Linked DNA regions of Homo sapiens: region 2 is linked to region 1. Evidence: fine-mapped expression QTL. A gene starts in region 1. The other region holds a variant in brackets. All regions are shown on one strand. Distances are between the middles of the regions.

Evidence for each region. PIP is the estimated chance that this variant, and not a neighbour inherited with it, causes the effect. A credible set is the group of variants that fine-mapping cannot tell apart.
Region 2: its variant is the best candidate, but not a certain one, in a credible set for the expression of NFU1 in fibroblasts (GTEx, PIP 0.83).

The regions. Positions count from the first base shown.
Region 1 is chr2:69,433,172-69,442,039 of GRCh38, reverse strand. It overlaps NFU1 (NFU1 iron-sulfur cluster scaffold), which reads left to right and starts at 4,605. Exons shown (of 8, transcript NM_001002755.4): 1 at 4,605-4,679. The coding sequence starts at 4,618. RefSeq lists an enhancer at 4,600-4,749.
Region 2 is chr2:69,457,279-69,466,146 of GRCh38, reverse strand. It overlaps AAK1 (AP2 associated kinase 1), which reads left to right. Exons shown (of 22, transcript NM_014911.5): 22 at 1-8,150. Among named protein-coding and RNA genes, the nearest start is that of NFU1, 24 kb to the right of the region's middle. The variant G/A (reference allele first, on the strand shown) is at 3,606.

The sequences.
Region 1 (8,868 bases):
TCCAAATTCTGGGGAAATTTAGAGAGAAAGAATATGCTTCAAATTTTGATCAGAAAGGTATATTTTACCCAACTTGTTGTAAGCTATAAATAGCTCAACAGAAAAAAGTTTTCTTGACTCTGTAAAAACAAAACAAAAATTATCAGCAATGTTTCAAACAAAAAACAGTCATTAAAAATTACTTCACACACATACAAAAATTACTTTAATATTCTATTGGTTTAGTCCCATTAATTAACTCTTGTTCTTTTTGATGTTGGGTTAGCAATCCTCATGAATACATCAGCTTTTTAATTAGAGTCCTGGAAAGCATTTTCATAGTCCAATGCTATGATCTCCAAAGTTATCGGAAACTTGTATTCAAGAGTATTTGTTAGAGTCCTTTCCATGAATTTCCTTAAAGAAGAAAATTTTGGACTGCAGCTGATTATAAACTACTTTTTGAGAAGAATCAAAATAAAACAACAATTGTCTGTGGATGACAAAACTCTTAGAACAGCCATGGTTAACCTAATGCTAGATGACGAGTTAGTGGGTGCAGCACACCAGCATGGCACATGTATACATATGTAACTAACCTGCACATTGTGCACATGTACCCTAAAACTTAAAGTATTAAAAAAAAAAAAAAAAGAACAGCCATGGTTAAAGACACAATTGACAAGGAAATTTGGTTATTTCTGTGGCACACAACGATGTAACATAATAATCATAATTATTACTGATGTCATATACTAAGACATACCAGAATTACAGGAATCTCACACAATTTTGAAACACACATTAATAACTCATTCATATAAATATAACCCAAAGAAAGTTAAACACCATTTCACATTTGACAATGCTTCCTCTCCCCCACATAGCGTTCTATTCCCTTAGTGCCTTTGTTGATTTACAAATCTTCTCCAGGAGCTCCCTGAGACCAGGAATTGTTTTGTTCATCTTAATATTACTCCACACAGGATTTTGATCATCTGTGAGTAACAGGAAACCTAATTAAACAGTACTGTAGGCAAATATTGACCTAAAAGAAAGAAGCTGAGGCAAAATTAATATAGAGAATTTATTTGGGCCAAGGTTGAGGACTGTAGCCCTGGCCATATTGCAGGTTGCCTTGGAGAGTGCTCTGGGAAAAAAGGAGAGGCTCAACTTTTTAAAGAAAAAGAGACAAATCAGGGGAGAGGAACAATTACAAAAGTTGCTCATCAGGTATTCTCATTTGACTTTTTTTTTTTCTTGAGACAGGGTCTCATGCTGTCACCCAGGCTGGAGTGCAGTGGTGCAATCACGGCTCATTGCAGCCTCAACTTCCCAGGCTCAGGTGATTCTCTCATCTCAGCCTCCCAAATAGCTGGCACTACAGGCATATGCCATGACATCTGGCTAATTTTTTGTGGAGACATGGTTTGTTTGTAGAGACTCCCAAGTGCTGGGATTAGAGGCGTGAGCCACAGCACCCGGCCCTGATACTTTTCTTTTTTAGGCTAGTCAATGGGCCTCATAATTTAAAGGGGCTCACCTTCCTCAGATAACATGTTTTTATTCTGCCAGGGTTAGTGGCTCATGCTTGTAAACCCTCCATGTTTCCCAGCATGGTCTCAAACTCCTGGGCTCAAGCAATTTGCCCACCTTGGCCTCCCAGAGTGTTGGGATTACAGGTGTGAGCCACCATGCTCAGCAGGTATTCTCATTGGTTTACAGAAATAACATTGTTAGTGACTGGCCATGCACTGTTGAACTATAGGGTATATGGCATGTTAACGGCTTCTTGACATTAGTCTAGTGTATACATAGCAAGTGACTTCAAGAAGTTGTTACTTAGCTCAAGGGCGAATGAGATATTACTGCTGCTACATTTTAAATGCCTCTCTGGGCCTGATACTTTTTCTAGTGCAGGCTTGTGGTGCAGGACTGGCAGGCAGCTCTGCTCATGGCCCTGGCATGGGATCCACTAGGCGAAGCCAGCTGGGCTCCTGAGTCAGGTGGGGACTTGGAGAACTTTTATGTCTAGCCAGAGGATTGTATATGTATCAATCAGCACTCTGTGTCTAGCTTGGGGTTTATGGATGCACCAATCAGCACTCTGTATCTAGCTAATCTGGTGGGAACTTGGAGAACTTTTATGTCTGGCTAAAGGATTGTAAATACACCAATCAGCACCCTGTGTCTAGCTCAAGGTTTGTAAATGCACCAATCAGTGCTCTGTGTCTAGCTAACCTAGTGGGGACTTGGAGAACTTTTACTCTAGCTAGAGGATTGTAAATACACCAATCAGCACTCTATGTCTAGCTCAGGGATTGTAAACGCACCAATCAGCACCCTGTCAAAACGGACCAATCAGCTCTCTGTAAAACAAACCAATCAGTACTCTGTAAAATGGACCAATCAGCTCTCTGTAAAATGGGCCAATCAGCAGGATGTGGGTGGGGTCAGATAAGGGAATAAAAGCAGGGTGCCTGAGGCAGCAGTGGCAACCTGCTTGGGTCCCCTTCCATGTTATGAAAGCTTTGTTCTTTTGCTCTTTGTAGTAAATCTTGATGTGGCTCACTCTTTGGGCCCGTGCTGTCTTTATGAACTGTAACACCCATCGCAAAGGTCTGCAGCTTCACTCCTGAAGTCAGTGAGACCACGAACCCACCAGAAGAAACAAACTCCGGACACATCTGACCATCTGAAGGAACAGACTCTGGACACACCATCTTTAAGAACTGTAACACTCACCACAAGGGTCCATGGCTTCATTCTTGAAGTTAGCGAGACCAAGAACCCACCAATTCCGGACACAGTAGCACAGAGGCTGTGGGTGGTTTGACTAGAGCAGGCCCTAAGAATGGTGGGACATAGAAGCCTCGTTTCAGGGGTTTGAGGAGTGGGAAGTGAAAAACTAGAGACTAAGAGTGCAGACCATTTTTTTAAGCCACTTGGTTCTGAAGGGAAGAAAAGAGTGTGGAAGAGGATTTGGGGCAAGGCAGGATTTTTCTTATGATAAGGAATCCATCAGAGAGGGAAAAATTGAAGTCTGAGAAGAACGATTGTTCCAAGGTGGAAGAGCCACATTTTATTTTTGATTGAGGGTCAAAAACAGAGCCTTGGACTGCCTTGCGGTCTAGAATGGGTGTGTGTGGGGGGGTGGGTGGGGGGTTGGATGGGGGAAGATCACTGGGTGGGGGGTTGGATGGGGGAAGATCACTAGTAGTTAAAAGCAAGTACGCAGCATTGGGAATGAACCAAACTCGTAGGAGGCACAGCCCACTCAGTGTGCGGGCCCGGGCGAGCTGCAGGCCTGAAACCCACCCACCCTCTTAGATGTGTCTGTGGGCCATAGAAATTACTAGGGTTGTCTTGGGTGTGGCCTCAACCTGTTCAACAACAGGTGTGCTGTTTCCATTCTGGAAACCAGTCCTCTGTCTTCCAGAACAGTGATTCTCAAATTTTAGCTGGCATCAGAATCCTGGGAAGGGTTTGTTAAAACACTACTAGGCAGGGTGAGGTAACCTAAGAGCTTTTGGAGGCCCAGGTGAGAGGGATCACTTGAGGCCAGCAGAGTTCAAGAGCAGCCCAGGCAACACAGGGAGACCTCTTCTCTACAAAAATACTACTACTACTACTGCTAATAAAAGCCAGGCACCGTGGCTCACACCTGTAATCCCAGTGCTTTGGGAGGCTGAGGCTGGAGGATGAATCACTTGAGCCCAGGAGTTGGTTTTGGTGAGCTATGATCGCACTCCTGCTCTCCAGCCTGGGCAACAGAGATAGACCCTGTCTCTGGAAAAAGAAAAAAAAAAAAAGCAAGTAACAAAGATTTCTAGTCCCCACCTACAGAGATTGTGCCTCAGTAAGTATAAAGTGGGGCCCAGGATTTCTAACATGTTCTAACGTGCATTTCTAACGTGTTCTCCTGCTTTTTTTTGGCCCCTAGTCCGCACTTTGAGAACCGTTGTCCTAGAGAAAACGGAATACTCCAGGAAGGTTCTGGAAGAATAGGTAATGGGCTTTGGCACTCTGCCCTGGAAACTAGTCAAGTCTCATGTTAATCGGAGAAGGGCAGCACTGTACCAGATACATCCTCTGTGCGGGTTGGTCCAAGATGACCAAGTGGCAGCTGACAAGCACAGCTATGAGGAAGGGTTAGACACAGTTCCACATCAGACCCATGGGAAAAGGGCAGGAGAAATGCGAGAACCTTTTAGAAGGAATGCTCCAGGGAGTCTTTGGGGGCAGTCACTGAGCTGGGCCTGGAGGCTGAGTAGGGTCCTAGAGGAGGGAATGGGTCAGGTTTAGGGGCTGGAAACAGCATTCGCAAGGCAGCACCAGCACCAGCTAAAAACCTAGCCAACAGGGAAAACAAAGTACGGAAACACGCATGCGTTCACAGTGCTGCGTGAATTAACCAAGCGTTGGCGCAAACGGGAAAGGTTCCCCGGCCTCTCTTGGTCAGGGTGACGCAGTAGCCTGCAAACCTCGGCGCGTAGGCCACCGCACTTATCCGCAGCAGGACCGCCCGCAGCCGGTAGGGTGGGCTCTTCCCAGTGCCCGCCCAGCTACCGGCCAGCCTGCGGCTGCGCAGATCTTTCGTGGTTCTGTCAGGGAGACCCTTAGGCACTCCGGACTAAGATGGCGGCGACGGCCAGGCGGGGCTGGGGAGCTGCGGCTGTTGCCGCCGGGCTGCGCAGGCGGTAGGTGACGAGCCTGGAGCTCCGAATAGGTGTGCCGCTGGGCTTAGCCAGCGGAGCGGTCGCCGCCTTGCAGACCCTCTCTCGAGGCGGGTGGGTAGTGCATCTGATGGAGCCGGCGGGTCCGCCCTGTCGCCGTAGTTGGGGGTGAGCCCTGAGGCTGTCTGTGCGGGAGCTCGGCGCTTCTGTGGCCTAATCCGGGCGGACTCTCTGGAGCTTCCTCTCAGGCTCAGAGACCCAGTTCTTGAGTCTCTGCGGTACGGAAGCTTGTAGAGACTGGCTGTAGAGCCAGAACGGAGGAGCTGTTTTAAAATCGTGTGCCTCTCCCGCCCCCAGGCCCTCTACCGGGTGCATTCCCTCCTCTTCTAAACGCAGAATCAGAATGTCACACAGAAGGGAAGAAAATACCTTGTCTCGTTTCCTCATTTTCCCAGTAAGGCCCTGAAAGAGGAGGTGACATGTCCAAGGTTACACAGTTTCTAAGTGATGGAATTCCGACGAGAACCAGGACCCCTAGATTCCCTGCACCCACCACCATTAAGCCCACTCTGTTCCCTTGTTTTTTCCGCCTCCCTGAGCCCTACCTTTGAGTTTCACCTTTCAAAGACTTCTGTGAACATTGCTAAGAGGACATTTATGTAGGTGTACCTTAATTTTACGTCTGGAGAAAATGGCCTACGGAGAGTTTGCCCTCTAGAGTATTAGACATTGTAGTGTTAATGGTGCTCTTGAAGTTTAAATGTATATCCTAAAAAGATTTAAGTTGGTAGAATTTTTTGTTAGTTACCTCCTGTGTTTGAGTAGATGTCTTCCTTGAATAATGTAATCCACTCTTACTTTAAAAAAACAAGACTTTAAACCTGTATGTTGGAATGTGCTTCCTCTTTATTCATTCTGCTGCCTTTTCCCTGGGCTGAAGGGACGAGAATATTATTCTTCTAGTGCATTTCCAAATTCCAGAGTATTCACAGATTTAGATACTGAGCTATAGAAAAAGGCATTTTTACCCCAAACCTTGAACTGCACTCAATTAGTAATTATTGGGCACCAATTAAATAATGGTAGCAGCTGCCATTTATTGAGCACTTACTGCATGGCCTGGCACTGGTTTAAGCACTTTACATGGATTCTCTGGATTATTTATGAGGTAGCTGTGAAACTAATCTCATTGTAGAGATGAAGAACTGAGGCCATTGTGCTAGCAGCTAGAAATGAAGATAGTTTCTCCCCTTAATGAGTATGCAGTCTAGCAAGAAAAATATATTAACAAATAATGACAGTCATGAGTGCTGTAATAGATTCATGTAATTTAAAGTGGTGTGCCGGGCGTGGTGGCTCACGCCTGTAATCCCAGCACTTTGAGAGGTCAAGCTGGGCGGATTGGCTGAGGTCAGGAGTTCGAGACCAGTCTGGCCAACATGGTGAAACTAAAAAAAAAAAAAAAAAAGCTGGGCGTGGTGGTGTGTGCCTGTAATCCCAGCGAGTTGGGAGGCTGAGGCAGGGGAATTGCTTGAACCAGGGAGGTGGAGGTTGCAGTGAGCCAAGATCACGCCACTGCACTTCAGCCTGGGTGACAGAGTGAGAAAAGCGAGATTATTTCCATCTCAAAATAAAGTGGTGACAGCTCTTACTGTGATCAACACTGGAGCTAGTGTGGGGAGTGGCAGTCAGGACTTCACAGATTATTTGATTCCCATTCAGTGTTGATTCCATTGTTCTCTTGAATCCTCGGTGCCAATCCTTTTATCTCTCCAATAGCATCTAAGAAACTCTATGGGTTACAGTCCCACAGTATCCCAGTAGTCTTTTGCTTATCAATGGCATATAAAGATTATTGAAGGTAGTAAACAGTTCATCTGTATTTTGTTAATACTTAATTGGTGCCCACTCTTTCTTTTCCACGAGAAGAATTCCAGTTTTGTGAGAGAGAGAAAAAAATGTGGCAGCCGCTGTTGCTTCTTGCCTATTTTAAGCAGAAGATAATTAGATAAATGTGATCTTGTGTATGATCACAAACAATTTTGGCCTTTGGAAAAAATTTTAACAGAAAATTATGACAGTGAAAGACCGTTCTAACTGACCATCATTTTGCCTTTAACCTCTAGACTGCCCATTCCCGGGCTTGGGCCAAGCTAACTTTGGGAGACATTTAGTTTATAGTTTAAATGATAATAGCCCTTTCCCAAAATTAAACCACCTTTATAAAGCTAATGAAAGACCACCAGGTTTGGAGGATGAGAGGAGCCTGAATTCTGCTAAGGTGTAGATGTAAATGATTACCAGCCATTATTCTGGCGGTCCTAAGAGTTGCAACTTCCCCAATTACTCCTGCAGAAAACATCTCTCTTGTAGAACCTAAGATTAGCCTTTTCAGGTTTTTGCATTTCTGACTGGTCCTGTGGCCCCGCCCACAAACGGGCTGAGCACTCAGGAGGATCATTTTCCGCACCCCTATGATTGCATCCCCAACCAGTCAGCAACACCCGTTCCCTGGCCTGCCAGTCTATCCTTGAAAACCCCTAGCCTCAGATCCAGAGAGACTGAGTACTAAAACTCCACTCTCCCTTTCAGCTGGCTCCATGTGAATTAAACTCTTTATTGCAAATCCCCTGTCTTGATGAATTAGCAGTATCTGGACAGTGGGCAAAGTGAACCCATTGGCAATTATAAATGACTCCTGTACTTAAAATTTTTCTATGGCTCCTATGAAGTGGCAGTGGTAATGGATAGCGATGATATTTTCAAGTAAACCGGATTTTAAAGTAAATTGCATTGGGATTTTAAGAATTTTTACTATTAAAGTCTCCTTTTACTTCCTTTTCCAGTAATATTTGCTTTCATTTTCTTCCTTTGTTTTCAGTTTGTCAAAGCCATAAAAAATAGCCAATTAAGTTTTCTCTGTAAGAGTGAAGTAAAGTTAGAGGCCTGGCGCTGTGGCTCACGCCTGTAATCCCAGCACTTTGGGAGGCCGAGGCTAGTGGATCATGAGGTCAGGAGTTCAAGACCAGCCTGGCCAAGATGGTGAAACCCTGTCTCTACTAAAAATACAAAAATTAGCCGGGCATGGTGGTGGGCATCTATAATCCCAGCTACTTGGGAGGCTGAGGCGGAGAATTGCTTGAACCCAGGAGGCGGAGGTTGCAGTGAGCCAAGATCGCACCACTGCACTCCATCCTGGGCGACAGAGCAAGACTCCGTCTCACAAAAAAAAAAAGAAAAAAAAAAGTGAAGTGAAGTTACAACACTGGGTTAATATGTTTCCATCCAAAAAGCATATAAAAGGCAGGGCATGGTGGCTCACGCCTATAATCCCAGCACTTTGGGAGGCCAAAGTGGGAGGATTACTTGAGCCAGGAGCTGGAGATCAGCCTGAGCAACATAGTGGTAATCCATCTCTACCAGAAGTAAAAAAAAAAAAAAAAACTAGCTGGGCATGGTGGCATACAGCTGTAGTGTCACCTACTTGGGAGGCTGAGGTGGGAGAATCACTTGAGCCTAGGATGTTGAGGCTGCAGTGAGCCCTGATCACACCATTGTACTCCAGCATGGGTGACAGAACAAGACCCTGTCTCAAAACAAAACACGAAAAGCGTGATCAAGATCGTTGGCTGTGTAATCCCAGCATTTTGGGAGGCCAAGGCAGGTGGATCACTTTAGGTCAGGAGTTGGAGATCAGCCTGGCCAACGTGGTGAAACCCTGTCTCTACTAAAAATATAAAAATTAGCCGGGTGTGATGGTGTACACCTGTAATCCCAGCTACTAGGGAGGCTGAGGCAAGAGAATCACTTGAACCCAGGAGGTGGAGGTTGCAGTAAGCTGGGATCGCATCACTGCACTCCAGCGTGGGCGACAAAGTGAGACTCAGTCTCAAAAAAAAAAGACGGGCCAGGTGTGGTGTCTCATGCCTGTAATCTCAGCACTTTGGGAGGCCGATACGGGAGGATCACCTGAGGTCAAGAGTTCGAGACCATCCTGGCCAACATGGTGAAACCCTGTCTCTACTAAAAAGTACAAAAATTAGCCAGGCATGGTGGCGGGCACCTGTAATCTCAGCTACTCGGGAGGCTGAGGCAGCAGAATTGCTGGCACCTGGGAGATGGAGGTTGCAGTGAGCCGAGATTGTGCCATTGCACTCCAGCCTGGGCCAACAACAGTGAGACTCCATCTCAAAAACAAAAAGGACAGTCGTAT
Region 2 (8,868 bases), 24 kb before region 1:
CTGATGGGCTCAGTGAGCCAGATGTTTTTGCCATAGCTCCCTTCAGGAGCTCAAGGGTTCCAAATGATGACATGGACATTTTCTCCAAAGCCCCATTTGTCTCCAAGAGCAGTATGGCTCCTTCCCAGCCAGAGGAGTCAGACGTGTTTTTGAGAGCTCCTTTCACTAAGAAGAAAAGCATGGAGGAGTTAACAGTTATCCAATGCACCTCCCAGGAGCTGCCTGCACAGACCGGTCTCCTCAGTCAGACAGGTGATGTCCCCCTGCCCGCGGGCCGTGAGAGAGCTGTGTACACCTCTGTCCAAGCTCAGTATTCCACAGCTGGTTTTGTGCAACAGTCTAACCTCCTGTCCCATTCTGTACAAGCAGCAGACCATCTGGACAGCATCTCTCCCAGGGGATCCTGCCTGGAATCTGGGGGTCATTCTAATGACAGAAACAAAGGACCTCAGCTCCAGAAAGAAGCTGTCTCAGGCCCCATGGCTGGCAAACCATTCCGCCCCCAGTCCTTATCCAAGTATTCCCGTCACTATAGCCCAGAAGACGAGCCAAGTCCAGAAGCCCAGCCCATTGCTGCCTACAAAATTGTTTCACAAACCAACAAGCAGTCGATAGCTGGGTCTGTTTCTATCACATCCCTTTCCTCCAGGACTACGGAGCTGCCAGCTGCTGATCCATTTGCTCTAGCACCCTTCCCTTCAAAATCAGGCAAGAAACCCTAGGAGCAAAACCTGAGCCTCAAGCCTCTTGTCTCTATCCCACCCTCAATACCCGCCATGGCACTCCCAGCTTAGCCTTCTGAAGAAGAAATATTATCAGTTCTTATATTTCAATTCCCTGCGTCAGAGCAGAATTTCTTGAGTCAACAAACTCAGTTGCAGTGATATTTAGTTGAAGCCCCTTTAAGTTATGTTCATTTTTGTTTGTTTGTTTGTTTGTTTATATTGATTTCTGGACTTGGAGGCATTTTCATCTCCTTCACAGAGGTCATCCACTTCCACCAAGAACTCTGCTTTCCCCCCGCCCCACCCACAGAAACTGTTTAAATCCTGAAATACTTCTTCACCCCAATCCCAAAGGGGCCCTATTGTTGCTAGTTTTAATTCCTGTAGCTCCTGTTCTAAGTCATGCCCATCGAAGAATCAAGATTAGTCCCTCCACTAAATCAAGATTTAGTACTCTTGAAAAGGGGAGATGTCTGGAAAGAAGAGCAAGATAAAAACCCTGCACATCAACAGGAAGTATAATCCTGCAGTTACTAATAATTCCTGTAGAAGCAGCAGCTCTAGGAGTCTCCAGATCTGATTCTCAGTCTGTGTGCAAGCCAGGCTGGCTCTCGTGCATGACTGTCTATGGGTGTGGAATGTACGTCAGAGCCTGTGTAGAGATACAGGCAGATGGGCTAACTCCTCATGTCTAGTCATGCTGGCAGGGCTTTCCCCACATCCATGCTTTTGAAATTAGTGTGAGTGTACAGGTTTGTGTGTGCATGTATACGTGTGTGTGCACAGGAAGCATTTCCACTTGAGGGAAATCCTGCCCCATCATGCCTACCTCCACAATGAAATCACTCGTTTTTTGGTGTTTGCTCGCCTAACTGACTTGAACCCCATTTTATTTATTTAGTTTTTTTCTCATGGCAAAGTAGAATACGTTGGAAGGTGTAGGGAAATCCTGCTGGAACTGGTGTTTCAGAGTAAATCTTTTTTCTCTCCGGAATTTCTTGTTTTGCTATTAACAAATTATATTTACCTGATTATGAAAAATTAATTTTCCTTATACATTTTCCCCTTACAACACTAGAAAAGAGCACCTTGTTACAGTTCCGGCCTCTCAGTATGTGGGCTAAATGCCAGCATTAGGGAATTCATTAATCATGAGACTAGGCTACAAACTAGGCTTGCTTGTTTTGGGGTGGTTTTGTTGTTGTTGTTGTTGTTGTTGTTGTTGTTTCCAAATCTCTACTGCCTTTTGAGGAAATGTAAATCTGAGACATGGAAATAAGTGTTTGGGAGAATGGAAAAGAGCTGAATCAGGTAGGCATGAAAACTTTTACATTCTCTATCCTCTTTAGATGTTGAAATAGGCCAGACAGGTTAACTGATGTTTTTTAAAATTGTCTTTTATTTCTGGAAAGATCTGACTTATTCCTAGCTTTTTTCATACCCTTTATTATTAGTGCCTTAAAATAAAGCTGGCCAGGTGCAGTGCCACACACCTGTAATACCAGCATTTTGGAAGGCTGAGGCAGGAGGATCAGTTGAGCCCAGGAAGTTCAAGACCAACTCTGGCAACACAGCGAGACCCTGTCCCTTCAAAAAATAAATAAAAAAATAGGCTGGGCATGGTGGCTCACACCTGTAATCCCAGCACTTTGGGAGGCCAAGGTGGGCAGATCACAAGGTCAGGAGTTTGAGACCAGCCTGGCCAACATGGTGAAACCCCATCTCTACTAAAAATACAAAAAATTAGCTGGACGTGGTGGTGCACACCTGTAGTCCCAGCTACTCAGGAGGCTGAGGCAGGAGAATCGCTTGAACCCGGGAGGCAGAGGTTGCAGTGAGCAGAGATTGCGCCACTGCACTCTGGCCTGGGCGACAGAGCGAGTCTAAAAAATAAAATTAAATAAAATAATGAAAAAAATTAGCTGGGTATGGTGACATATGCCTGTAGCTACTCAGGAGGCTGAGCTGGAAGGATCACTTGAGCCCAGGAGTTTGAGGCTGCAGTGAGTTGTGAGTCCAGCCTGGGTGACAGAGTGAGACACTGTCTCCAAAAATATAATAATAAAAATAAAGCCTGTATCTCAATGGGAAGATTTCTGCTAAGGCAGTTCAACTCACTGGAAAGAACTGCTGCATTAGGTTTCAACTTTAATGCTTTCTGTTACTTCTAGTAAAGGTTAAGTGATTTTTCCATTAGCTGTAGAAGTTTGGAGAGCTATTTACCAAGCCAGATCAATGATTTAAAAATTATTGGAAATTCATCTAAGAATCAAGTCTGAATGCCCAATTCTATTGCGGTTGATTAGGTGTGATATTCTTTAAAGTTCAGGAATATTGGCAGTAAAAAATGAGCAGCTACTTTTCAATACTTTGTCCTTTTTTGGTGGTCTCTGCCTATTTCAAATGTCCTGATCAAAAGATAAATAATTGGCACTGTGCCAAGGTTTGGTTTTCCAACTAAGGTTTCAACTGTGCCAGAAACCTATGTCCTTCACTTTGGTGGATGCTAAATGTTATTCTAAGAATATGCTTTTTCCCAATTCTCCTTTCTGATTTTTATGTATTAGTGGATGCAAAATTGTCTTTCTAGTTGAATGAATAATTTCGGCTAATGCACGTGGAACTTTGCACCCCAGATTCTTCCCATGGTCATTATCAAGTGAAGCCCTCAAAAACATGAGCGAAGAGCCTAGAAATACTCAGGGAGATTTCTCACCCCAACTCAGAAATTTTTTTTTTTTTTTTCAAGACGGCGTCTTGCTCTGTCGCTCAGGCGGGAGTGCAGTGGTGTGATCTCGGCTCACTGCAACCTCCATTTTCCGAGTTCAAGCGATTCTGCCTCAGCCTCCCGAGTAGCTGGGATTATAGGCACACACCACC[G/A]CGCCTGGCTAATTTTTGTATTCTTAGTAGAGATGGGGTTTCACCATGTTGGCCAGGTTGGTCTTGAACTCTTGACCTTGTGATCCACCCACCTTGGCTTCCCAAAGTGCTAGGATTACAGGCGTGAGCCACCGCACCTGGCCCAGAAATTCTTTTTTTTTTTTTAAATTATTATTATACTTTAAGTTTTAGGGTACATGTGCACAATGTGCAGGTTAGTTACATATGTATACATGTGCCATGCTCGTGTGCTGCACCCACTAACTCGTCATTTAGCATTAGGTATATCTCCTAATGCTATCCCGCCCCCCTCCCCCCACCCCACAACAGTCCCCAGAGTGTGATGTTCCCCTTACTGTGTCCATGTGTTCTCTTTGTTCAATTCCCACCTATGAGTGAGAACATGCGGTGTTTGGTTCAGAAATTCTTAAAGTAAGAGATCATTCTAATTCCCCTTTCCAAATATTCAGGATTATCTCTGTAACAGCCCAGCAAAATGTTTTTCCTTTGGTTATTTGATAATTCCCTTCTAATCAAGTGACTATTTTAATTCTCAAGGTGCAAATCAGGATAAAATCATGGTGATTTTACTACATAGTTGAATACTTCGTCAAGTATGAGCTTGTATCCTTTTTAAATTTTTCACTGGAGGCCAGGCGCGGTGGCTCACGCTTGTAATCCCAGCACTTTGGGAGGCCGAGGTGGGTGGATCACTTGAGGGTAGGAGTTTGAGACCAGCCTGGCCAACATGGTGAAACCCTGTCTCTACCAAAAATACAAAAAGTAGCTGGGCGTGATGGCACGCACCTGTAGTCCCAGTTACTAGGGAGGCTGAGGCAGAATTGCTTGACCCAGGGAGGCAGACTTTGCAGTGAGCCAAGATTGTGTCATTGCACTCCAGCCTGGGCGAGAAGAGCAAAACTCCGCCTCAAAAAAAAAAAAAAAATTGTCACTGGAGACATGATGGGTGGAGACTCTACATACCTTCTTTGAATACAGAAACGGATGCAAACACATGCAAATTACTTTTTTTTTTTTTTTTGGTGATGCATGAAAAAACTTTGACTTGTGGATTACATTAATTATTAGTAACAGTTAGATTCTGCCGACTTGTATTACAGTAGGGTCTTATTTCCTTAAAGAGAAAAAAAAATACAGTCATGCCCCACTTAATGATGAGGGAGACATTCAGAGAAATGCATCCTTAGGTGATTTTGTCATTGTGTGAACATCACAGAGTGTACTTAACACAAACCTAGATGGCACGGCCTACTACCTACCTAGGCTATATGGTCCAGCCTGTTGCTCCTGGGCTACAAACCTGTACAGCATGTTACTGTACTGAATACTGTAGGCAGTTGTAACACAATGGTAAGTATTTCTGTATCCAAACATTTTAGACATAGAAAAGGTACAGTAAAAATATGGTATAATCTTATGGGACCATCATGGTATATGTGGTCCATCATTGATGGAATCGTTTTTATGCAGCACATGACTGTATATAATCAACAAACAACTCTACTTTCTTGTTTTCGTTTGTTGTGTTTTTGCTTTACACATTTGATAGGGAACATAGAAGTTGTGACCTTTCATTTCAGTGGAAAGCATTGAGCCAGAATATATTTATTCCTAAACCATCGAGCCACACATGCATTGATGAACCCTGAAAGAATCCACAGTAATTGACTAACAGGCAGTACTGAATGAAAGATGTCATATGTGGTGAAAAATATTTAATATATCAGTTTCTTGGGCTCACATACAGCCCTTTAGTTCCAAGTGCTTGGTTAGATTAGAAAATGGGATGAACACAATTTGATGCTGAAGCAGCTGCTGAGCAGCACCCAGGGAGTCTAGGTCATACGCCCTATATTGTTTTCGGCCCACTTATTGTTGAGTTGAAAAGTCTCATATTTGTAGACTAGAGTGTATGTGTTTAGAGGCTCATGTTGTATCTGAGTTTTCTCTGGCAACTAAGATCTCTTTCTAAACGTTCTAGAAAGATACTGGTATCTTACTGGCCCATTATTTAGTAAGTTTTAGAATACATGTACATCAGTGTTTTCAACTGCTTGGTGGACATTTCACTGATGCATAATCAAAGTAGCAGATTATAATCATCAGAGTGATCTGACAAGGAAATTCTGTATTTGCTTCCATAAAGAAAAATAATCAAAACATATATCAGATATAATATATATGCAGTATATCACATAGGAAATTTTATTGTAGGAAATTAGAGAAGGATGCTACTCAATTCATTCTCTAGCAGGAAGAATACAGCTTAAAAATCACTTGGGTCCCTTTAATAAAGAAAAGTGTGATTCTGTGTTGTGTGTTTGGAACTGAAATTGGAGAACACGTGCCAGTCGACTGTGAAATGGTTGCTGGATAAAACCACAGATGTGGTTTTATCCGAGAAATGTGGGACTGAAATTATTTTGATGAGAGGTACATAAGAGAGCTGCAGAAAAGACTGTAGCTTCTGAGGAGGCAGGAGTACCTTGTTAATATCCAAACCACCCCTGAGTTCTAATGTTCCAACTCCACCTAAACGAGGAATTGGAAACTTTAAATGGAATTATCTAATTTAAATTCTTAGTTTTTTCTTTGTCTTTCTCAGCTGATACTTGTAGTTTTGTTTTGTTTTTTAACCACCAAGAACACTTGCAAGTTTGTTACTGAAAACATCACTAAAGGAAAAGAAGAGTTTCAAAATGCTTGAAAAGTAGTATGTGGTTGGGAATTGTTTTTGTTCAAGTCCCTGGAAGTCCTCTTGGCTTAGCTCCCTTGTTCCTGTTCCCACTTCATTTCCTTACTTAACATTCCCCTATTTTGAGCATGTCAATAAGTGCATGATGAATGGCACAGTTGAATGATCATGTTAACTTTAATTGCTTCCTTTGTTGCTGTAAACAGTTTCTTGTTAAGTTTCAGCCAAGTCTGTGACAATCTCACCAAATAAGAATGAAATGGGCGGGGTGTGGTGGCTCACACTTGGAATCCCAGCACTCTGGGAGGCTGTGTTGGGCCGATCGCTTGAGCTCATGAGTTCAAGACCAACCTGGGCAACATGGCAAAACCTTGTCTCTACAAAAAATACAAAAATTAGCCAGGCATGGTGGTGCACACCTGTAGTCCCAGCTACTTGGGAGGCTTAGGTGGGAGGATGGCTTGAGCACGGGAGGCAGAGGTTGCACTAAGCCAAGATCGTGTCACTGCACTCCAGCCCAGGCAATAGAGCCAGACCCTGTCTCAAAAAAACAAAACAAACAAAACATGAATGAATGAAATGGCTCACCTTCCCTATTATGAACTAGAAGAAAGGATGAAGGAAGGTTGGCAGGACCCCAGCCTTACTCTGTAGTGACAACCCAGAGGTACTTTTCCCGGAATGCAGGGTCAAGTTTATGTGTGAAGGGACTCTAGAATAGCTGGTAAAAATGGCTACATGGTAACCATTCTTGACTTAGTCCAGTATTCCCATAATTTGTAATTCCATAAATTTATTCTCAGCTGTCCCCCAGCCATTTCTAATAGAAGGATGTGTACCCCAGTTTTGACAATGTTCTTGAAATCAAGTTAGTGTTACCTGCATTGCATTATAATGGAACTATATGTACATGTTAAAGGGATCCGTTTGATTCCTTTCGGCAAGGAATTGCAAAAATAGTTTTTACCAATACCAGTTAAAATAGGATAGGTTAGACTTTGGGGGCAGGGTGAGACAGTGCAGCCTTTTCACTCTGAAATGGCAAATCAGCTGTACTCTTTGAGTCTACCAGAGATTCCTATTTGAGTGTGAATGGGGTGTGTGTGTGTGTGTGTGTGCTCATTCATCTTCATGCTTTCTTCCATGGTGTTAATTCAAGCTCTCCTAATAAAGGTATCCAAAGAGTACTGAGAAGTGACCATAGGTATTTGGCATGAGTAAATGTAGTTCCTTTTGCCAAAAAAACTCTCAAAAGTTACAACTGGAGTTCTTCGCGATAAAAGGTTGGGGAAATCAGCCATGGCTTTAGCCTTGTTCCCAAGTACACATCTTCTTATCCACAAGGATGAAACTCTGTAGGGCTCACCCTGAGGGCTCATGTGTGGCATTGAGAGGGTAGCAGTGACCAGAACACCACAAGGCCCACAAGATGTTTTGAATGAGGGAACATTTAATGTCATTTGTTAGGAGATAGAAACCAAATAATAAAGGACAAGGACCACGCTCATTCCGTGGAGAAGAGGTGAACTCCCTCTGCTGACTATTTGGAATGGACTGAATGAGGAGGTCTCTCCAGCCAGAAGGAGTATTGAGGTCATCAGGCCTCAGAAAACAATGTACACATAATCTCGGGCTGTGAACAAGAGAAAGGAGGGGGGGAAACATGAAAGTCAATCTTAACAATTTTTGCAATACCTCTTATTTGCAGACCATTGGATTTATGTTATTGCACTCTCGGTGTGATTTATCGTATGTATCTGATAGGTTTTATGAATTGTTTTGAGTTGTAAACTCCTATACCCTTTATTAAAATGGACCTAATTAAGTGATTTATGCTTTGTGCAATTTCTTAAATCAGATCTCTCTAGGATTGAAGGGATCCATAGGTATCTTTCACTTAGTGTGAAGCCTAGTAGTATACTTTTATATTCCTGAAGAGAGACCAGCATTAACATAAAGAGAGAAGTCTTAGGAAAAAATATACCTAAGAATTATTTTTAAAATTCATACTGTGAAGGAGAATCTGCCTGCCTATTTCCTCTCCAAATTTCAGAAAATAACACAGAGTGCTATTTGCCTGAACTTTAATGAGCTTGACTTTGTTATGATTCAGGGAGAACTGGTTACACCTCTGCTGAGTTTGCAGAGGTGACATTTGAAGAAGACCCAGGAATCCAAAGAGTTCTGGTATTATATGCATGAATGAAGCCAAAGTTGCCTACTTCTGAAAATTTAAGACCTAAATATACACCCCACCGAATTCTACCATGTGAAGTTCTTATGTTTTTCCTATTTCAAGTTAACATTAAGCAAAAGCATAGTCTTTTTTATGTGTGCCTCCGCAGTTGCTCTGGGGGAAGCCCTTTTCAGACTGTCCCTGAGCCTTCTGCTAAGGTGTGCCCTGCCTTCCATGTAGGGAACACAGGAGTAGCAAACACAAGCTCCCACAGGTGGACTCTGCATTCACTTTGTGTCTCACTTTTGCCCCTGAGGCTGGTTGGCAGTAGACCAAGGAGGTGCCCTTATATCACCCCTTAACACCCAAGT